Linked DNA regions of Homo sapiens: all the other regions are linked to region 3. The links come from fine-mapping of genetic effects on gene expression. A gene starts in region 3. Each other region holds a variant in brackets. All regions are shown on one strand. Distances are between the middles of the regions. Region 1 has its middle 28 kb from the start of DNER. Region 2 overlaps FBXO36 (F-box protein 36). Region 3 holds the start of TRIP12 (thyroid hormone receptor interactor 12).

Evidence for each region.
Region 1: its variant is fine-mapped to the expression of TRIP12 in whole blood (TOPMed, PIP 0.98).
Region 2: its variant is fine-mapped to the expression of TRIP12 in whole blood (INTERVAL, PIP above 0.99).

Annotation. Positions count from the first base shown.
Region 1 is chr2:229,738,813-229,746,337 of GRCh38, reverse strand. No RefSeq gene overlaps it. Among named protein-coding and RNA genes, the nearest start is that of DNER, 28 kb to the right of the region's middle. RefSeq lists an enhancer at 2,132-2,952. The variant T/C (reference allele first, on the strand shown) is at 3,889.
Region 2 is chr2:229,945,784-229,953,308 of GRCh38, reverse strand. The region is part of intron 1 of FBXO36 (F-box protein 36); the gene reads right to left. Among named protein-coding and RNA genes, the nearest start is that of FBXO36, 27 kb to the right of the region's middle. RefSeq lists an enhancer at 1-346. The variant A/GTGTA (reference allele first, on the strand shown) is at 3,771.
Region 3 is chr2:229,919,223-229,926,747 of GRCh38, reverse strand. It overlaps TRIP12 (thyroid hormone receptor interactor 12), which reads left to right and starts at 4,739. Exons shown (of 42, transcript NM_001348323.3): 1 at 4,739-4,868. It overlaps FBXO36 (F-box protein 36), which reads right to left and starts at 4,245. Exons shown (of 4, transcript NM_174899.5): 1 at 4,139-4,245. The coding sequence starts at 4,234. RefSeq lists enhancers at 3,967-4,026, 4,683-5,183, 5,184-5,684, 6,322-6,421 and a silencer at 4,857-5,246.

The DNA of each region.
Region 1 (7,525 bases), 180 kb after region 3:
TCTGCCTTCCCACTACTGACTCTTTCTGAGCTTCGGCTTCCTCAGTCAAAAAGTAAGAATGATACTATCTGTCTCATAGTTTAGTTTAGGGGATTAAATTAGATAAAATAACATAAATCCTAAGCCGTGTCTGGCACATGGTAGATAATGAAAGATCAGCCTCTCTTTCTACCTTTCCTCTGCTCACTGGTGTCTCCATCACCTTTGCCTTCTCTTCTACCTTGTCATTACTCAGTAGATGCAATTACAGATTTAACACAATTACAAATAAAATTAAAATATCAGCATGATTATTTGTAAATCTAGGCAAGCTAATTCCTAAATGTATATGGAAAGGCAAATAAACTAGAATAGCCAAAACGACTTTGAAAAAGAAAATTAAAGCTGGAGGAATCCCACTCTCTGACTTTAGGACTTGCTATAAAGTTAGAGTAATCAAGACAGTGTGATATTAGCAAAGGGATTTATATTGGCATATAGATGAATGAAACAGGTAGAGAGTCCAGAAATAGACTCACACATATGTGTTCGACTAATTTTTTGACAAAGATGCAAAGAATGGAGGAAATTCAGTGGAGGAAAGACAGCCTTCTCAACAAATGGCAAAGGAACAATTAGACATCCATAGGCCAAAAAAATGAACTTTGAACTAAACCTCCACCTTATATAAAAATTAACTCAAAACGGAGCATAGAACTGCATGTAAAACAAAAAACTATAAAACAAGGCTGGGACTAGGGTGAAAAAAGGAATGTACCTAGGATGCAAAATTTAAGGAGGCACTCACTTTAGTTATGCAAGTATGATCCTGAAAGTGAGAGGCTTTTTAAATTTTGTGCCCTAGGCACCTCCCTTATGTCACCCTAGTCCAGGTTTTGCTATACAGCTTTAAGAAGAAAACATAAGAGAACATCTTCACAGCCTGAGTTTAAACAAAGGGCTCTTAGCCATAACATAAAACCACAATTTATGAAAGAAAAAAATCAATAAATTGGACTTCTCAAGATTAAGAACTTTTGTCAAAGACACTGGTAAGAGAATTGAAAGACAAATTAACAAACTGGGAGAAAATATTTGCAAATCACATATTTGACCAAGGATTTGTATATGTAATAGACATATATTCTGGTACATTGTATACAGAATATGTAAAGAGCTCTCAAAACAGAACAATACAAAAAGAAACAATCTAATGAAAAAGTGGACAAAGGACTTGGTTATTTGCCAAAGAGTGCTATGGTCTGAATGTGTCCCCTGAAATTCATATGTTGAAAGTTATTCACCAATGTGATAATATTATGAGGCAGAGACTTTAGAAGGTCACTGAGTCATGGGAGTGGGATTAGGGCCCTTATGAAAGGGATTGAGGGAGTGGATTTGCCCCTTTCCATCTTTTCCACCATGTGAAGACACAGCGTTCATTCATAGGACACCATCTTGGAAGCAGAAAGCTGGCCTCATCAGACATCAAATCTGCTTCTTGATCATGGACTTCCCATCCTCCCAGAACTGTAAGAAATACATTTCTATTGTTTATACACTACCCAGTCTAAGGTATTTTGTTATAGAAGCACAAACAGACCAAGACACATTATATACAGATGGAAAATAAGTATATGGGAAGACGTTTAAAAGCATTAGCCATTAGGAAAATGCAAATTAAAACCATAATTAGGTATAGTGATACACCATAAAATGCAAATTAAAACCATAATTAGTGTATGGTGATACACCAATTAGAATACTAAAATAAAAAATACTGACAATACCAAGTGCTGATGAAAATGGGAGCAACTGGAACTCTCCTACATGGCTGATGAGAAAGGAAAATGGTACAGCCACTCTGAAAAACAGTTTGGCAATTTCATAGAAAGTTAAACCTACACTTACCACATGAGCCAGCAGACGCATTTCTACTTATTTACCTCAGAGAAATGAAAACGTATGTTTGCACAAAAACCTGTACACAGTATTCATAGCAACTTGCTTCATAATTGTCAAAAACAGCAAACAACCGAAATATCATTCCATGGATGAATGGATTTAAAAAAGCCCTGTGGTACATTTACACAATGGAATACTACTTATCTATCAAAAGGAATGAGCTGTTGATAGATGCAACAACTTGGATGATTCTCAGAGGCATGCTGAATGAAAGTAGTCAACCTTTTTATTTTTTTTAATTTAATTAATTAATTTATTTATTTATTTTTATTGATCATTCTTGGGTGTTTCTCGCAGAGGGGGATTTGGCAGGGTCATAGGACAATAGTGGAGGGAAGGTCAGCAGATAAACAAGTGAACAAAGGTCTCTGGTTTTCCTAGGCAGAGGGCCCTGCGGCCTTCCGCAGTGTTTGTGTCCCTGGGTACTTGAGATTAGGGAGTGGTGATGACTCTTAACGAGCATGCTGCCTTCAAGCATCTGTTTAACAAAGCACATCTTGCCCCGCCCTTAATCCATTTAACCCTGAGTGGACACAGCACATGTTTCAGAGAGCACAGGGTTGGGGGTAAGGTCACAGATCAACAGGATAAGAATTTTTCTTAGTACAGAGCAAAACGAAAAGTCTCCCATGTCTACCCCTTTCTACACAGACATGGCAACCATCCGATTTCTCAATCCTCTCCCCACCTTTCCCCCCTTTCTATTCCACAAAACTGCCATTGTCATCATGGCCCGTTCTCAATGAGTTGTTGGGTACACCTCCCAGACGGGGTGGTGGCCGGGCAGAGGGGCTCCTCACTTCCCAGTAGGGGCGGCCGGGCAGAGGTGCCCCTCACCTCCTGGACGGGGTGGCTGGCCAGGAGGGGGGCTGACCCCCCCACCTCCCTCCCGGACGGGGCGGCTGGCTGGGCGGGGGGCTGATTCCCCCACCTCCCTCCCGGACGGGGTGGCTGGCCGGGCAGAGGGGCTCCTCACTTCCCAGTAGAGGCGGCCGGGCAGAGGTGCCCCTCACCTCCCGGACGGGGCGGCTGGCCGGGCGGGGGGCTGACCCCCCCTCCACCTCCCTCCCGGATGGGGCGGCTGGCCGGGCAGAGGGGCTCCTCACTTCCCAGTAGGGGCGGCTGGGCAGAGGCGCCCCTCACCTCCCGGACGGGGCGGCTGGCCGGGTGGGGGGCTGACCCCCGCCACCTCCCTCCCAGACGGGGCGGCTGGCCGGGCAGGGGGCTGACCCCCCCACCTCCCTCCCGGACGGGGCGGCTGGCCTGGCGGGGGCTGACCCCCCCACCTCCCTCCCGGACGGGGCGGCTGGCGGGGCGGGAGGCTGAGCCCCCCGCCTCCCTCCCAGACGGGGCGGCTGGCCGGGCGGGGGGCTGACCCCCCACCTTCCTCCCGGACGGGGTGGCTGGCCTGGCGGGGGCTGACCCCCACCTCCCTCCCGGACGGGGTGGCTGCTGGGCGGAGACGCTTCTCACTTCCCAGACAGGGTGGCTGCCGGGCGGAGGGTCTCCTCACTTCTCAGACGGGGCGGCCGGGCAGAGACGCTCCTCACCTCCCGGATGGGGTCGGGCCGGGCAGAGGCGCTCCTCACATCCCAGATGGGGCGGCGGGGCAGAGGCGCTCCCCACATCTCAGACGATGGGCGGCCGGGCAGAGACGCTCCTCACTTCCTAGATGGGATGGCGGCCGGGAAGAGGCGCTCCTCACTTTCCAGACTGGACAGCCAGGCAGAGGGGCTCCTCACGTCCCAGACGATGGGCAGCCAGGCAGAGACGCTCCTCACTTCCCAGACGGGGTGGCGGCCAGGCAGAGGCTGCAATCTCGGCACTTTGGGAGGCCAAGGCAGGCGGCTGGGAGGTGGAGGTTGTAGCCAGCCGAGATCACGCCACTGCACTCCAGCCTGGGCACCATTGAGCACTGAGTGAACCAGACTCCGTCTGCAATCC[T/C]GGCACCTCGGGAGGCCGAGGCTGGCGGATCACTCGCGGTTAGGAGCTGGAGACCAGCCCAGCCAACACAGCGAAACCCCGTCTCCACCAAAAAAATATGAAAACCAGTCAGTCGTGGTGGCGCGCGCCTGCAATCGCAGGCACTCGGCAGGCTGAGGCAGGAGAATCAGGCAGGGAGGTTGCAGTGAGCCGAGATGGCAGCAGTACAGTCCAGCTTTGGCTCGGCATCAGAGGGAGACTGTGGAAAGAGAGGGAGAGGGAGGCCGTGGAAAGAGAGGGAGAGGGAGACAATGGGGAGAGGGAGAGGGACAGGGACAGGGACAGGGACAGTAGTCAACCTTTTAAAGAGATTATATATTGCAGGCCAGGCACAGTAGCTCACGCCTGTAATCCCAGCACTTTGGGAGTCCGAGTCAGGGGTATCATGAGGTCAAGAGACTGAGACCATCCTGGCCAACACGGTGAAACCCCATCTCTACTAAAAATACAAAAAATTATCTGGTTGTGGTGGTGTGTACCTGTAGTCCCAGCTACTTGGGAGGCTGAGGCAGGAGAATTGCTTGAACCCGGGAGGCGGAGGTTGCAGTGAGCTGAGATCGCACCACTGCACTCCAGCCTGGTGACAGAGCAAGACCCCATCTCAAACAAAAAAAAAAAAAAAAAAAAAAAGAGATTACATATTGCATGCTTCTTTTTGTATGACATTATTGAAAAGACAAACTAAAAGTCACAGGATCAGAGCACAGATTGGTGGTTGACATGGGTTTTGGGTGGGGAGAGGGTATGAGTACAGAAGGCTAGCATGAGGAGTTTTTTGCACTGCTTTTGTATTCTCATTATGGTGGTTACCTGAATCTATGTGTGTGTTAAAATTCATAGGCCTGTGCACTCAAAAAGTCAATTTTATTATTTGTTAATTTAAAAAATTATGCCTGCAGAAAAGTACACATAGCATTAGTATACAACTTGATGAATTTTTTCACACTGAACACATCCATGTAACCCACACCCAGATCAAAAGGGAGCATTATCAGAACATCAGAAATCTCCCTTGTGCCCTATTTCAACTACTATCCCCCTCAAGAGCAACCACTCTCTAGACTTCTAACAACATAGATTAGTTTTGTATGTTTTAGTACTTCACGCATTTCACATATTATCAAACACTTAATCACTTACTTAGAAGAAATCTAGGACATATTATTGCTGTAGTAATGACACCTTAATGAAAAAACCCTAATGGGAGAGAGGATCTGGGGGGATAATGAGTAAGAGTTCAAGGGCAATGGGATAGTTAATATTTGTCTTGCTGGGTGAAGAAAAGATCAGTATAAAGGTGGTCACTGCTGCTACAGAGAGAATGTTCTAGAGTCTGCCTTCATAGCCAGTGCCTGGGGTGGTCCTCAGCATTGCAGAGAATCATACAAATACTTGTTTACACTTAGTTCAGGGAAATTTGGAATCATGCTCCTAGGGGCCGTGTGTGGAAAATAGATTGTTTGAGCCCAAGACTCATCAGCCTTGGGCTCCTGACTTAGTATGCAGAGCTGGAGACACATCCAGCCACTTGCCTCCCTCTTCTTCTCATCCAGATTCCTCACTCTTATTCCATCCACTCGCCTCCCCATTCTTCTCATCCAGATTCCTTACTCTTATCCACAACATATGTTCCCTGGCTGTTTCCCGGCGTTCTCTGTTATCCCTGAAGGTCCAGAGGGTCTCCTGTCTTCTTGTATCTCTGATCCAGCCATTTGCTTGATAATCTTTCAGAGGATGGGAAAGCATCTCTTACAATGGCCCAAAGTGAAAGTGGCTGGAGATGAGCACGGGAGCGAACATGGGCAGAACAATCTGAAGTGAGACCTTCTTATAGCTATCAAAGATGGAGTCTGTACCTTGCCTTTTGAAAACAGGAAATGCACAGCATAGGCCTTTATTTCATATTATCTGCGTCTCCCATCACTTGTCCAAGTGTGTTTGCAACATTTATACTCTGTGGAAACATAACACTCAAACTCTTGGCTCTGAAATCAGCTATCAACACCCTGACACATTGCCTCTAAAGATGGTTATCTCATTTCATGGGCTCAGTTTCTCAGAGATAATACACGACAACTATTATTTCCATTCTGTTTTACCTTCCTTTTCTAGTTTCTTAAGGTGGAAGATTAGGTTTTTTATTTGGGATCCTCCTCCTCCTTCTCCTTCTTCTTTGACAAGATTTTACTCTGTCACCCAGGCTGGAGTGCAGGAATACAGTGACATGATCATAGTTCACTGCAGCCTCAAACTCCTGGGCTCAAGTAATCCTACCACCTCAGCATCCTAAGTAGCTGGGACAACAGGTGCATGCCACTGGGCCTGACTAATTTTTCCTTTTTTTTCCCACTTTGTTACCCAGGCTGGTCTCGAACTCCTAGCTTCAAGCAATCCTTCTGCTTCAGCCTCCCAAAGTGCTGGGATTACAGGCGTGGGCCACCACAGCCAGGCTTCTTTTTAAATATAGGTGTTACAACTACATATTTCCTTCTAAGCACTGCTTTCAGTACATCCCACAGGTTTTGCTATAATGTGTTTTTGTTTTTATTTATCTCATAGCATTTTCTAATTTCCCTTGTATTTCATTTTTTGCCCTTTGGTTATTTTGGAGTATGTTGTTTAATTACCACATATTTGTAAAGTTTCCCTTTTTGTCTGTTATTGATTTTAAATTTCATTCCATTGTGGGTATAGAACATACTTTGTTAGATTTTAATCCTTTTATTTTTATTTTTTGAGACAAGATCTTGCTCTGACACCCAGGCTGTAGTGCAGTGGTGTGATCTCAGCTCATTGCAACCTCTGCCTCCCAGGCTCAAGTGACCTTCCTACCTCAGCCTCCCGAGTAGACGGAACTACAGGCATGCACCACCATGCCCAGGTAAGTTTTCTATTTTTAGTATAGATGGTGTTTAACCATGTTGCCCAGGTTGGTCTCAAACTCCTGGGCTCAAGCAATCTGACCACCTTGGCCTCCCAAAGTTCTGGGATTACAGGCATGAGCCACTGTTTTAAGACTGGGTATTCTGTTGTTGTTGGGTGGAGTGTTATACAGATGGTTGTTAGGACTAATTTGTTAATAGTATTGTTGAAGTCTTCTCTTGTTGATCTTCTGCTTACGTTGTTTTGTTCACTGTTGAAGTGGGTATTGAAGTCTGTAACTGTTACTCTTTAGTTGTCCTTTCAATTCTGTCAGTGTTGCTTCATGTATTTTGGAGCTTTGTTGTTAGGTGAATATGTGTTTATAATTGTTATATCTTCCTGATGAATTGACCATTTCATCATTATAAAATGTCTTTTGTCTCTAGTAACCACCCTGCTCTCTTTTGGTTACTATTTGCCTGTTATATTTTCTTCCATCCTTTTACTTTGAACCTATTTGTGTCCTTGGAGGTAAAGTGTGTCTGTTATACACAGCATATAGTTAACTGATGCTTTTTTTTAAAAAAATACATTCTTCCAACCTTTGCCTTTTGATTGTTTAGTTCATTTAAATTTAGTGTAATTGCCAATAAGGTAGGATTTGCATCTGCCATTTTTCTATTCACTTCCTGTATATCTTATTTTTCCCTTGTCTTTCTCAGTTACTGTTTTATTT
Region 2 (7,525 bases), 27 kb before region 3:
GGAGTGCAATGGCGCAATCTCCGCTCACTGCAACCTCCGCCTCCCGGGTTCAAGCAATTCTCCTGCTTCAGCCTTCCAAGTAGCTGGGATTACAGGCGCCTACCACCACGTCCAGCTAATTTTTTGTGTTTTTAGTAGAGGTTGGGTTTTGCCGTGTTGGCCAGGCTGGTCTCGAACTCCAGACCTCAGGTGATTCACTCGCCTCAGCCTCCCGAAGTGCTGGGATTACAGGCGTGAGCCACCGCACCCGGCCGTTTTCTTTTCAAATAGGCAATACATGCACATGGCAAAATGAACACAGTAAACAGGGAAAAACATCTCTCTCCATCCCAACCCGAGAAAATGTTTCCTAAAACCAAATATTGGTCACGTTGGCACCTCCCTCACCTCTCTGTTGAGTCAAAGTCCAAGTTTCTCAGGAATAGCGGGGAGTTCTCCATGTCATGATCTACTGGCCAGCATCAGGTAAGATGGCGTCCATCCCATCTGTAGTTCGTTATCAGTTGCACAGCTCAAGGCTGCAGGATTCTCCTCCTGGTACCCTCTTGGCAACACTGCCCCACTGGTGGCTGCAGAATAAGGTGCCTAATGGTTCCCTGAGTACTGCAGGAGGCTGGGGGGCTGGGAGGGTGTCTTAACCTGTCCAGCCACTACCTCCTTTAGCAAACTGCTGGGGATGCGAGGCACTTTAGATTTCTCGGCTGGCTCTCCCATTCATCTGTGGCCCTGTGAGAAAGGTCGGGGCGGAGGTTTGCTCAGCCACTGGTTTACTGACTTTCACTCCCCAACTTGATTGAAAGCTGAGGATGCCTCATGGGAAACAGCAGTATCTAACCTCATTCTCTGAGAATATCTTCTCCCTCTTGCAATCTGAGATGTTTGCTTGATTAGAGAATACAGAGATGGACTCTGCATATTCTAACCATTCTATTATCTGTGTCTTAAACTTTAAGCCTCTACCCAATGTTTGGGCTTTTGAAATTTAAAACTCCTAAACTCTTGCATCTCAAGGTGTTGTCTTGGGAAACTCCCCTAAGGCAAGGAATGAAGAGGATTTAAGGGAGAAAAGCAGAAACTAGAGGGAAAAGAAGAGGAGAAAATTCAAGGGAATGTCCTTCTCCACCAAACCTGAAGTTGTTTGGCCTGCAGTCTGGTTATGATAGTTATAAATTTTCAAACATACAATTTAAAATAAAGCAATGCCTAAAAAAAATTAGATACAGTAATTAAAATAACTTATGAAATGTTCTGTTAGGGAGAAAAAAACATTTTCTTGAAAAAAAGTTTAAATAAAACATTTCATGCAAAATTTTTTTTTCACCAAGTTATAGCCATGACCACAGTGCAAAACTTGGCGAGAGCTTTCGTGTCAATATTTATGAGGTTTCATTCTCAGGCTCAAATGGCCAAAGCATTCCAGGGTCCTTTGTGTTTAAGCTAAATTGGAATTGAGCAAAATCACTTGCAATCACTTGACAAGTCATATAATCTAGATCTTTCCTTGTTTCCACTTGCTGACTTCAGTTAAACAAAATTATGGGAGACCATTGTTTTGGCCTGTGCTCCTGCACTAGGCCCCAAGAGAGCAGACCAACTAAAATGGAATCACTTCTTCTAAATGCCCCATCATCCAACTGAAACTTTAAGGGAGAAGATAGATCCCAAAGCAGATCGATTTTCCCTGAAATCAGGAGATTCCAGTCTACCTGAGTAAGCATCATAAGGAAGTCCTTTCTGCTTTAATGCTTTACAAAAAAGTAGCCTGGGCTGGGCGCGGCGGCTCACGCCTGTAATCCCAGCTCTTTGGGAGGTCAAGGCAGGCAGATCACCTGAGATGAGGAGTTCAAGACCAGCCTGACCAACACGATGAAACCCCATCTCTACTAAAAATACAAAACTTAGCCAGGCATGGTGGCACGTGCCTGTAATCCCAGCTACTTGGGAGGCTGAGACAGGAGAATCACTTGAACCCAGGAGGCGGAGGTTGTAGTGAGCCGAGATCACGCCACTGAAATCCAGCCTGGGCAACAAAAGCGAAACTCCGTCTAAAAAAAAAGAAGAAAAAAAAGTTGCCTGGGACGGGCGCGGTGGCTCACGCCTGTAATCCTAGCACTTTGGGAGGCTGAGGTGGGTGGATAACGAGGTCAGGATATCGAGACCATCCTAGCTAACAAGGTGAAACCCTGTCTCTACTAAAAATACAAAAAATTAGCCGGGTGTGGTGGCACACACCTGTAGTCTCAGCTACTCGGGAGGCTGAGGCAGGAGAATCGCTTGAACCCAGGAGGCGGAGGTTGCAGCGAGCCAAGATCACAACACTGCACTCCAGTGTGGGCAACAGTGCGAGACTCCGTCTCAAAAATAAAATAAAATAAAATAAAATAATTAGTGGGGCATAATGGCGCATGCCTGTAATCCCAGATACTTGGGAGGCTGAGACAGGAGAATCACTTGAACCCAGAAGACAGTGGTTGCAGTGAGCCAAGATCACCCCACTGCACTCCAGCCTGGGCGGCTGAACGAGACTCTGTCTCAAAAAAAAAAAAAAAAAAAAAAGTAGCCTGAAGTAACCTGTGTTAACCAATATGATTTTTTTCCCTATTGTTCTGTTTCCTTGTTTTCCATCCTACAAAACCCACTGTTCGGCCATTGCTCAGTGGGAGCTCTCATTCCGTTCTGTGGAAAGGAGGCTGACCTGACTCATGAATTGCGAATAATAGCTAATTAGATCTATGATAAAATTTGTTGTAATGTTGTCTTTTGACATTTCTGACCTTAGACAGAACTTACTTTACCTCCATACCTCACATTCCTCCCTCACTATCCTGCACTCAGCTCTCTCTTTTCCCTTTGGGCTGTGATTTTATTTATTTATTTATTTTTGAGATGGAGTCTTGCTCTGTTGCCCAGTCTGGAGTGCCGTGGAGTGATCTCGGCTCACTGCAACCTCTGCCTCCTGGGTTCAAGCGATTCTCCTGCCTCAGCTTCCTGAGTAGCTGGGATTACAGGCACGTGCCACCATGCCCAGCTAATTTTTGTATTTTTAGTAGAGATGGGGTTTCACCATGCTGGCCAGGCTGGTCTCGAACCCCTGACCTCGTGATCCACCCACCTCAGGCTCCCAAAGTGCTGGGATTACAGGCATGAGCCACTGCGCCCAGCCTGGGCTGTGATTTTAAAGCAAGCTCCTGGTCTCACTGCTCTTGTCAGCTCCCCTGGGCCAGTGTCCCCTGTCCTAGAGCTCAGGGTGGCTGCTGGAGGCACTGAAGCTACATGCTATGATTAATTTTTCCTGAGACAAGTTAATGTAAAATTTCTTCCAGTTGGCTGCCATCTAATGTGTCTCATTTTCCAGAGACAAGTTTTTGTTTTTGTTTTTGTTTTGAGACGGAGTCTCGCTCTGTCACCCAGGCTGGAGTGCCCTGGCACGATCTCGGCTCACTGCAAGCTCCGCCTCCCAGGTTCACGCCATTCTCCTGCCTCAGCCTCCCGAGTAGCTGGGACTACAGGCGCCCGCCACCACGCCCGGCTAATTTTTGGTATTTTTAGTAGAGTCAGGGTTTCACCGTGTCAGCCAGGATGGTCTCAATCTCCTGACCTCGTGATCCGCCCGCCTTGGCCTCCCAAAGTGCTGGGATTACAGGTGTGAGCCACCATGCCTGGCAAAGAATATTGGAATATTTTTATACTTATAGACATCTACCAAGTATTTCTCAGCATCTATATACTTACACAGATTAATCTGTGTGTGTGTGTGTGTGTGTGTGTGT[A/GTGTA]TACATTTTACATGAATGGGATAATTCTAAACATGCTTGTCTATAATCTCTTCTTATACTTTAGTGTCACAGACATCTATTCATGTGATGTCTAAATATAGCATCATTATTTTTAGTGGCTTCACAGTGTTCCTTTTTACATAATTTTAATTTACTTAACCAATTTTCTTTGAAGGACTTTTATTTTACTCTTCTCCACTCCCTATTTGTGTAATTATTTCCTTAGGGTAAATTCCCTGAGGTGGGATGCCAGAATAAAGGACGTGCACACGTTACACTTGACAAAACATTGCTAAGCTGTCTTTGGGAAGCACATCAGACAGAACTAGGTCCAGTTGAATGAGACAACATCCAAAAGGGTGGCTTATACAGACAGGCATTTATGTAAAAAAAAGAGGCATCCTGAGGCTGGGCGCAGTGGCTCATGCCTGTAATCCCAGCACTTTAGGAGGCCAAGGCGGGCGGATCACGAGGTCAGGAGTTTAAGACCAGCCTGGCCAATATGGTGAAACCCCGTCTCCACTAAAAAATACAAAAATTAGCCGGGTGTGGTGGCCGGCGCCTGTAGTCCCAGCTACTAGGGAGGCTGAGGCAGGATAATCAGTTGAACTCGGGAGGCGAAGGCTGCAGTGAGCTGAGATCATGCCACTGCGCTCCAGCCTGGGCAACAGAATGAGACTTCGTCTCAAAAAAATAAAAAATAAAATAAAATAAAATAAAGAGGCAGTAGGCAGTCCATAACCCAGGGAACCAGGCCCCTTTCCATTTGGGTTTTCCGTCACTTTCAGAATTTGGCTGCTTTTGCGTGGTACCAGATAGCTGCTGAAGTCCTAGCCACAGAATCTGCATTCTAGACAGTAGGAAGGAGGAAGAGATGAAAAGGGTCCAACTCTCACAGACTCTTCTGTGTAGTCACAGTCACCCCTTCCACTGCCATTCCCTTGGCCAGAATTTAGTCATGTGGCTAACTGTAGCTGCAAGGGAGGATGAGAAATGAAGTCTTTTTTTTTTTTTTTTTTTCTCTAAAGCCCAAGTGTTCGGCTAAAAGTCAGATAATTGTTTACTAAGGAAAAGAGAAAATGGATATTGGGGGCAACTAATGGTTTCTGCCACAGGAAGAATGTACTAATTTACACTCCTTGGGACATCACACAGAGGAGGCCTTTTCCCATGCCTTTACCAACACTGTTTTTTCAGACTGTTCCTGCTCTAAAAGCAATTCGTTACTTACAATGAAAAATATTTAACCCAACCTCAAATAACTTGTGTAGATTAGAACACCAATATCAATGATGTACATTTCTCCCCAAAAGTAAAAAGAACATGTAAATGTGGGGACACAAGTGTTCCTCTGCCTTAACTTCTTAAATGTTTATTTTTAAAAACATAATTTTTTTTTTTTTTGTAGAGAAAGGGTCTTGTTATGTTACTTAGGCGGCTCTTGAACTCCTGGTCTCAATGAACCTTCTGTCTTGGCCTCCCAAAGTGCTGGGATTAATGGCGTGAGCCACCACACCCAGCCTGACTTCTAAATGTTGAAGCTCTGTCCTTAGTGACATCCCTCCTCTGTCTAGGTAATCTAATCCAAATGGTTTTCAGTGCTGCAGAGTCAAAATCTGTATCTTCACTCTTGATGTTGAATCCTACTAAATTATGCAGCTGCTTACTGTGCACACCCACCTGTAATCCACAGGGGCAGTTTATACTCAGCTATAAAAAACTGATCTCATCATCTTCCCTTTGAAACCTACCTAGTCCACTTCCTGTATTCCTTATTTTGGTGGCACTAGTTGAGTCATTCTAGACTTTCTTAGCCTCTATCATCACAAAATATCAACTCCATGACTAAATTCTATTGATTTCACTTCCTTAATATAACTTGACATTCAACTCCGTGGTACTTTAGAGGATCATGACAAAATCTAATAAGAAAGCTCTCTGCCTCCATGGGCTTAAACTGATCCAAGCAATCTTCTACACAGCAGCCAAAGGCTGCTTACTAAGATGCTGGTGTCGATGTGATCCCTTTTTCTTCCCCATGGCCCAAATCCTTGGGGTGGCATAGAAGGCCAAGGAGTGACCCCTGTCCATCTCTCCTTCAGCATCATCTCATACTAGCCACTGACTATGCCCTACATTTCAGCACATCACTGTACTTCCCAACTATAGTATCACAATTCACTGACTGCTAAAATGAATCCCTCCTGCCTAGAATTATTCCAGCTCCCTACTTCTTTACTCTGTAAAATATAACTTTTGAGATTCATATCATATAGTCACAACCTACATAAAACCCTTCCTGCCTTACTTCCTTGCTTTGTGCCATTTTTGTATTCTATACTTGCTTCTTATTGTTATTTATTTACTTTTGAGACAGAGTTTCGCTCTTGTTGTCCAGGCTGGAGTGCAATGGTGTGATCTCGGCTCACTGCAACCTCCGCCTCCCGGGTTCAAGTGATTCTCCTGCCTCAGCCTCCCAAGTAGCTGAGATTACAGGCACCTGCCACCATGCCCAGCTAATTTTTTGTATTTTTAGTAGAGACGGGATTTCACCATGTTGGCCAGGCTGGTCTGGAACTCCTGACCTTAGGTGATCCACTAGCCTCAGCCTCCCAAAGTGCTAGGATTATAGGCATGAGCCACAGCGCCTGACTTCTATACTTGCTTTTAATCCAACAGCAAATAGGACTAATATTTATTAATGCAACAAATATGTACTGAGTTCACACTGTGCTTGGCATTGTACTAAAAGCTGGATTCATGACCATGTGCACGCTGAACATTAGGCTCTTACAGTGTTTAGTCTACACAGCTTACATTAGAAGAGGCTAATTTCCATTCACCATCTCTTGTTTGCTAGAAAAGAAATTGTCTCTCCTCTATCAGTCTTTAAGAGATGCTAAGAAACTGATGTTGCCTGTTGCTGATCATGTCGAGATATTTTCTTCAATGTCTTGTTGCTTATTCAAGTTTTTACCTTTGCTTTTATGACTCCATGTTGTTGGCTGTCACTATCCAGAGTTAACTGGATGTTTAAGACACAAAAATTTGGCTTATTATTTCCTAAGCTTTCTCCTCAAACTCACTCCTGAAAAAGGCCAAGTTAAGGGGATTCTTGGCAGAGATGCAGGCAGATCTAACAGGATGAATGACTAGGCAAAGATTGGGGAAAGCGTGTTCCAAGTGGAGGAGTAGCATAAGCAAAGGCTGAATGAAGGATAGAGGTGACAATGGGCGAGTTGAAAAGATAATTTTTACAAGGGGGTAGGACGAGCATAAACTATGCTGCAGAGGCTTAGCTCACAGCACACCTTAAACACAGCAGTGCATCAAGACCTGGCTTGTATCCACCTGGATCATACATGTCCCATGGAAGTACAGTCCTATGGTCTCAGGTACCTGCTTCCGCTTCCTTCCCTCCACCACAACCCCCTGGGGCCGCAATGCAAAGTTCTTACTCCTGTTTTACTTCCTTTTCATCCTCCCAATTACCAGTTTTGTCTTTTTTTTTTTTTTTAGATGGAGTTTCGCTCTCGTTACCCAGGCTGGAGTACAATGGCGTAATCTCAGCTCATTGCAACCTCCGCCTCCCGGGTTCAAGGGACTCTCCTGCCTCAGCCTCCAAAGTAGCTGGGATTACAGGCATGCGCCAACATGCCTGGCTAATTTTGTATTTTTCGTAGAGACAGGGTTTCCCCATGTTGGCCAGGCTGGTCTCAAACTCCTGAACTCAGATGATCCGCCTGCCTCAGCCT
Region 3 (7,525 bases):
TTTTTTTTTTGTTTTTGAGATGGGGTCTCACTCTGTTGCCCAGTGGTGAGATCTCGGCTCACTGCAACCTTTGTCTCCTGGGTTCAAGTGATTCTCCTGCCTCAGCCTACCCAGTGGCTGGGATTACAGGCTCATGCTACCATGCCCAGCTAATTTTTTTATTTTTAGTAGAGACAGGGTTTTACCATGTTGGCCAGGCTGGTGTTGAATTCCTGACCTCAAGTGATCCACCCGTCAGGCTCCCAAAATGCTGGAATTACAGGTGTGAGCCACCACACCTGGCCAAGTAAATCTTATTTATTTATTTATTTATTTTAAAGACTGAGTCTTGCTTTGTTGCCCAGGCTGGAGAGCAGTGGTGTGATCTCAGCTCACTGCAACCTTTGCTTCCAGGGTTCAAGCGATTCTCCTGCCTCAGCCTCCCGAGTAGCTAGGACTACAGGCGTGCATCACCATGCCCAGCTAATTTTTTGTATTTTTAGTAGAGATGGGGTTTTGCCATGTTGGCCAGGCTGGTCTCGAGCTCATGGCCTCAAGTGATCTGCCTGTGTCGGCCTCCCAAAGTGCTGAGATTACAGGCATGAGCTGTGCTCAGCCCCCCCTTTTTTTTTTTTTTTTTTTTAAGAGAAGGGGTCTTGCTATGTTGCCCAGGCTGGTCTGAAACTCCTTAGTTCAAGCAATCCTCCCACCTGAGCCTCCCAAAATTCTGGGATTACAGGTTTGAGCCACTGTGCCCAACCCTTGAGTGAATCTTTGATTTAGAAAGCAGCGCACTATTTTTTCTAAAGCTGGAGATCATCATTATAAAGATCAGCTTCGAGAAACTAAACTGACCCCAAGCTGTAATCCAAAAGTTATTTATTTGAATAAAACCCCTCTCCCAAGACCCAAAACAACATGGTATCAAGCAGTAAAAGAGAAGTGCCTGTATAAGCATACAGTATATTTCAAATGTTACTATATAAACAAAGAAAATGTTTATGTATAACATTTATATTCTGGACTATGTCAGTGGTGGTATGACACTAATGAGAGAAATATCTGCCCTCAAATCCATGTCAAATGTGCAGTTATTTGGATTTAAGGCCAACGAAAAAGATGCAGTGAAAAAGAGACTAAAAAACAGAATCAGCATGAAAGAAGGATTCATCTAAATCTGGGGCATAATTTGGATAATATACAACATTAAAAAAATAAAGACAGGAGAAAGGGGAGGAAATGTACAAGAAATAATTTTAGAAAGTCATTCCAGAAAAAAAATCTATCTTATAAAACATATTTTAATGCTAGTCTTTTAGTACTTATTTATGTCAGGCCACCTCTTACTGGATGTTTGGTTTCCTGTGCTGAGACTCAGAAAAATTGTCTTGTGGTTAGAAAATAGCATATTCTCAAGGCAGTTGACTGAAAAGTATATTTTTTTGGCATGCCATTTTTTACAACAAATTTTACTTTAAAAAGAGGGTGAATTAATTAGCTTGGAGATTAACTCTCACTGGTAGAAGTGTAGTGGATTTATTCAGCATGCTTAAAAAAGAAAATGGATCAGAATTTAGGATTTTATATATATGTAACTGACAGAACCTGAGATAAAGGAGAGTTTTTCACTTGCAAAAAATAAAAAATAAATAAATAAATAATAAAAATAAAGAAAGAAAAAGAAAAATTAAGAACACTGAAGGGATGGTGGGAAAGATTTCTTAAAAAAGAGTAGTTAGGGCCGGGCGCGGTGGCTCACGCCTGTAATGCCAGGAGATAGAGACCATCCTGGCTAACACGGTGAAACCCCATCTCAACTAAAAATACAAAAAATTAGCCGGGCGTGGTGGCGGGCGCCTGTAATCCCAGCTACTGGGGAGGCTGAGGTAGGAGAATGGTGTGAACCCAGGAGGCGGAGCTTGCAGTGAGCTGAGATTGAGCCACTGCACTCCAGCCTGGGCGACAGTGCGAGACGCTGCCTCAAAGAAAAAAAAAAAAAGAGTAGTTAGAGGAAGGCATGCGCCTAAGTTAGACTTGAGAGCAAAGTCTGAAGAACACCAACAACAGAATTATTCTTTAGGAAGCCGAATGCCAGGGAGCACTCCTAAGGATAATTTACTAAAATAAAAAGGTAACAAGATACTCAGCCTGGTGAGGCTTACAAATGAGAGAAATGAAGCATACTTGTAAAATACCAGACCTTCAGGGGAAAGAAAATGCAAAAAAAGACAAATTTTTAAAGGCTGTAAAAATTAAAACATTCTAACTTACTTGAGGTAGATAAAAATAGAAAATCATGTAAGATTAGAACAGATTATATTTTTGACCACTCATGTTAGGAGGTGAAGAAATGTTAGGATCATAAATCTTAAAGCCAGCCAGGCTCGGTGGCTCAAGTCTATAATCCTAGCAATTTGGGAGGCCGAGGCAGCTGGATCACCTGAGGTCAGGAGTTGGAGACCACTCTGGCCAAAATGGCGAAACCCCGTCTCTATTAAAAATACAAAAATTAGCTGGGTGTGGTGGCGCACGCCTGTAATCCCAGTTACTCGGGGGGCTGAGGCAGGAGAATCGCTTGAACCCAGGAGATGCGGAGGTTGCAGTGAGCTGAGATCGCGCCACTGCACTCCAGCCTGGGCAACAGAGGGAGACTCCCTCTCGATAAATAAACAAACAAATCTTAAAACAAATGGAAAAATCAATAATCCGTTTAAAAAATGTACAAGGCCGGGCGCGGTGGCTCACGCCTGTAATCCCAGCACTTTGGGAGGCCGAGGCAGGCGGATCACGAGATCAAGAGATCGAGACCATCCTGGCCAACATGGTGAAACGAGGTCGCAGTGAGCCGAGATCGCGCCACTGCACTCCAGCCTGGCGACAGAGCGAGACTCCGTCTCAAAAAAAAAAAAAAAAAAAAAAAACAACACCAAAAAAAAAGTACAGAAAAGGATACCTTTCAGTATTTCATACATCACTAAATGTGCAAAACCCCCTAAGAACAGTTTAATTAAAAATTTGAGTCTGACCCTGGGCCCACTGCCTATGAATTAGCCCTGCTCCGCAAGGAGCAGTACTGTTTTAAAAAAAATTTTTTTTGGACAGGCTGATTTTACATTTGTAATATTTCTAAATCTTAAATTAAAAAATATATATTAACATTTATATTTTAAAAGATGCTTTCAAAAATATAAAAAAATTAACTCATTACCTATTTTGTTTAAGGGCTCCTGGAAAAACTGAGGGAATGATCAATATGCACACCAAAACAAATATATACAAACTTCTAAATTTCATTTTATAGGAATAGTATCTATTGAAAGGGCAGGGTGCATGAATAACTCAGTGACAGGCGTAAACTCAGCCAGGATTAGAAACGTCTTCCCAATGGAGGCCCCGCTCAAGTTGAGAATTTCATGGACACAGTAAATCATCCAAAAGCCCACCTTCAATAACCAAAGTAGGCATAAAAATAGGCCGATGGTTACTTTGGAGATAATATAATCCTCGGTCTTATTGTTGTGGAGCAGATGTCATTATGGGTGGGGCTGAAGCGCAGAGCAGCTGAAACATTTTTATACCACCACCCGCACACTTTCAATGGGATAGAAGGGACTCCAAAAGGTAAGAGCTCCCAATCGTCAGTTGCTACTAGAAATAACTAAGTTTTGATGTGGCCGTGGCACGCGTAAAGGCCACAAAGAGATTTATAAAATTCTCCATGATTAATTCCTATCCTGGAAAAGAGGCAATCTCCTTTTCCCCTCCCTAGCCGGCTCCTCCTTGGGACACTTGGCTGAGTCGTTCTTTCCCTCCTTCTCACGCTGAGGTGAGGCCGCACGCAAGCCGGAGACGCCCGTTTTCCTCTTCGCGCGGAGGAAACTCTACGGGTAAGAAGCCGGGGTGGCGGGAAAGGAGCACGCGGCACCGCGGGGAGGCAGAGAAGGCTTGCCAGGGACTAGCCGGGCTCGGGGAGAGCAGGGACACGCGGGCCGTCGGACCGAGGAGGCCGAGGTGACGAGGAAAATCTCCCGGCGCGGAGCCGGGACTGGGCGCTTCCGGCGGGCTACGGTTGCTCTTGGCCTAGCACAGCCTGCGTCCCGGGCCCCAACCGGGCCAGGTAGGGAGTTAGGAGAGAGGGTAAACCGCGGCTCGCACTTGCCTGAGACCGGGTGACCAGTAACTGGTAATAGTCTTTGCTAGGCGGCGGGCCTTGTCCTACAGTTTCAAAGAGAGTCTCCGGCAGCCACGACGCCATCTTGGGACGCCACCGCCGTCGCTAAGACAACCAGGAAGGGGCGGGGCTTGGTTGGGGTCAAGGGGCCAAAACCCTAGTTTAAATTGAACCACGCTTATGAGCTGGCAGAAGGATTTCTAACTTGGGGCGATCGTCCCCTCTTCCAAGGGTCTTAGGGAACCCTGATCCGTGAAATTTCCAGCTCCAGGTCCCGGGTGACCCGAGGGGGAATTAGTTCCTGCTACCACGGAGGGGAGGGGGTGACCCCGGCGGAGGGATACCAAGTAGATCTCCACAGTCCCCTTCCTGGTCCCTCGAAGGGATCGGGCGGAGATCGGAGGCTGCTGAGAGAGTCGAGCCGGGAGGCGTGGGAGGGAGGGGCGATGTGATGGGCCGCCAGTAGGCAGCGGTGCCGGTCCCGCGGACGAGCCCGTAACCGGAGCCCGAGGACAAAGTAGTTCCCCGAGGGTGTCAGAGCAGGCGGGGAGGGAGGCGGCACGGGCGGAGGCGCACGCCGGGCGCGGTGCTGCGGCTCAGCTGATAATTGAAGGAACCCGGAGCCGCCGCCGCCGCGCCGCTGGGGGGGGTGGGGGGAGCTAGTGGAAGTTACTGCCGCGCCACCGAGTCCGGACCGGAGACTTTGGGGCCTAACTAGGTAATTGGGGCGCAGCTCTGGGCGGCGGGGGCAAGCCTTGGGGGAGGGGGCCAGCTGAGGGGTTGGGGGGGCGGGGGGAGGAGCTGGAACAGAAAGTCCCAGGAAGCCCGGTTGTGTCATCGCCGCGATTCGGCCCCCGCTTGGCCTGCTCCCGGCGCCGGCGGCGGCGGGGCCGCGGAAGGACCGGGCCGGGGGTGGACGGGAGAGACGCTCGAGGGCGGCCGCGGCCGGAGGGACCGGGGCCTGGCGGGAGGTAGGGGTCGCTGGGTCCCTCCTCCGGCTTCCCGCAATGAGGAGGGCCCTTCACAGAACCGGGGTAAGGCTTGCGGGTGTTGGGGAGCTCGGCGGGGACCAAGGGGGGCCGGAAGTGGGCTTTGGAGCTTGGAGGGTGTCTGGGAAGAGAGAAAGTGGGGGGCCGGAAGTGCAGGTGGGGGGTGTGAAGACGGCAAGGGTTCCCCGGAAATGGGACGAGGGGCCCGGAAATCGGGAAAGGGGAGGCTCCGGGGCCGTGGACGGCCCGGAAATGGAAACTAGGAAGCAGCTCCAGTGACAACAGTTGTGGGAAGCGAGGGTCAGAGAAGGGAGAGGCCAGAGAGACTTTAGACCGCAGTAAGGGGTTTCCTGCCCAGGGGGACGGCGAGGGACGGTTGAGGGAGGGCGAGCCCGGAGACGGGGTCTGCGCGGGGCAGTTTTTTAAGCCGTGGGAAGTTGAGGCTGAGGGAGGATGATGACGAGGGGGGCATGCAGGGAGGCCTAAAGAAGCCGAGAAACTTGACTGAGAGGAATAGAGTATCCTTTTAAATAGATCAGAATGGAAATTGGTGGTAGGTGGGTTTAACTAGGACTTGGGGGAGGGAGGTGGGCCAATTGTCACCCCAATCGTATTAGCATTCAGAGCGAGTCAGGCGATTAATTTATTTATATGTGGATTACATAAAACCTATTATTTACAACGTTTGTCCATCAGTTCAGCCCCTCTCCTTCCTTCTCCATAGTGAGTGGGTTTCTAGTACAGGAACAAGTTAGAGGGGAGTTCGAATAACGAAGGTAGTAAAACCTCAAATCCTGTCTTCCTCGGCGTCTCTCCCTTCCTCAGAATAAGAAATCCTTCATTTCCTAGACGGAAAAATGCGGAAAAACATAAAAACACATGTAAATCGGGGGGAAATCACACTTTGAACTCCTGGTGGGGGACAGGAGGGAATTGGTTACCTTACGTGGTGAGGAGATAACGGAAGGGGCAGCTTCCAAACCCTTAAGACAAATGTTGTGTTTTTTTGATAATGCTGTTTTACTTTGGGGGAGGTTTAGCCTAAGCATCGAGTCTGGTGGTGGGCATAGTTTAATTGCTTCTTTAGTTAATTGGGGGAGGGAATGTGTTTGTGTGTAAAGGTTGGGCCGGTGCGGGGGGAGGCGGGTACGGTTAATAGCGCAGTGAATCCGTTCTAAGTGGACGTCTAACTGCTCTCCTGCTGTCTCCTTTCCTAGTCGCGGTCCTCGATCTTGCCTGGGCTGCCAGATCACCCGATCTCCGGGCTTTACTCCGTTTTGTAGGCCCTTTAGTGATGTGTTTAACTTTATGTTCCTCTCGAGAGTCTCATTAGGTATTTTTGGCATTTCATTTTTTAAAGACCTAGCAAGTTGAGTCTCAGAGTCTCCTCTTTAAAAACAAAACAAAAAATACGGGGTAGAAAGTTGAAAGAGCTATTGAGTGGGGTAAAACGACGCTCAGAACAAAGGTCCTAGTTGTGTTAGAAAAAAAGGCAAGAGGCCTGTATATGAGGCCTGTGTGTGTCGCATTTACACCCCGGGGGGGTTGAGGAATGGAATTAGCAGAGGTTTAGAGACAATAAATTGTAGAGGATTTTATTGAGGCTGATTTTCATATTTACCACATGCAAAGTGATCAATATTAAGTGTAAGTTTTAAAGTATACAGAATTTCTAATTCTTTCTTTTGACACTTCCTGCTGTGTGTTCAGCCCCAGAAATGTTGAACTGCTGTGACTATCTTTGTGAGATTGAGGGAGTTTTATTTTAAGCTTAAGAGTACATAATATGATTGGGGTTTGTGGGCTTTGTACATGTCTGCCTTTCTATGAATGTGCCAATATCCATAAGAATTGGAAAACTGTAATTAAGATTATCATTGTTTCCATTCAATCCCCAGTTTTTCTGGAGTGTGAGCAGTTTTTAAGTCTGTTCAGCTGACATTTATACTACTTAGTTTGAGTCTATGAACAGGCTTTATTTTTCTTTTTTTTTTTCATTTACTTTCAAAAAGTTTGAGAACAATTTTGGCAGTTAGGTTCCAGAAGGTGCTAAACTAAAGTAGTTACATTTAAAAAACGAATGGGATGCTAGGTAGATCACGGTAAAATCAGTACTTTCACCTGGCAAAGTAAATTTGTAGTAATGTATGATTCCATGTATGATTCCTTTCCCATTGTAACTTTTTTTTTTTTTAAAGCAGAATCTTGCTCTGTCGCCTAGGCTGGAGTGCAGTGGTGCAGTGTAGGCTTAATGCAACCTCTGCCTCCTGGTTCAAGCGATTCTCCTGCCTCAGCCTCCTGAGTAGCTGAGATTACAGGCACGCGCCACCACGCCCGGCTAATTTTTGCATTTTTAGTAGAGACAGAGTTTCACCATGTTGGCCAG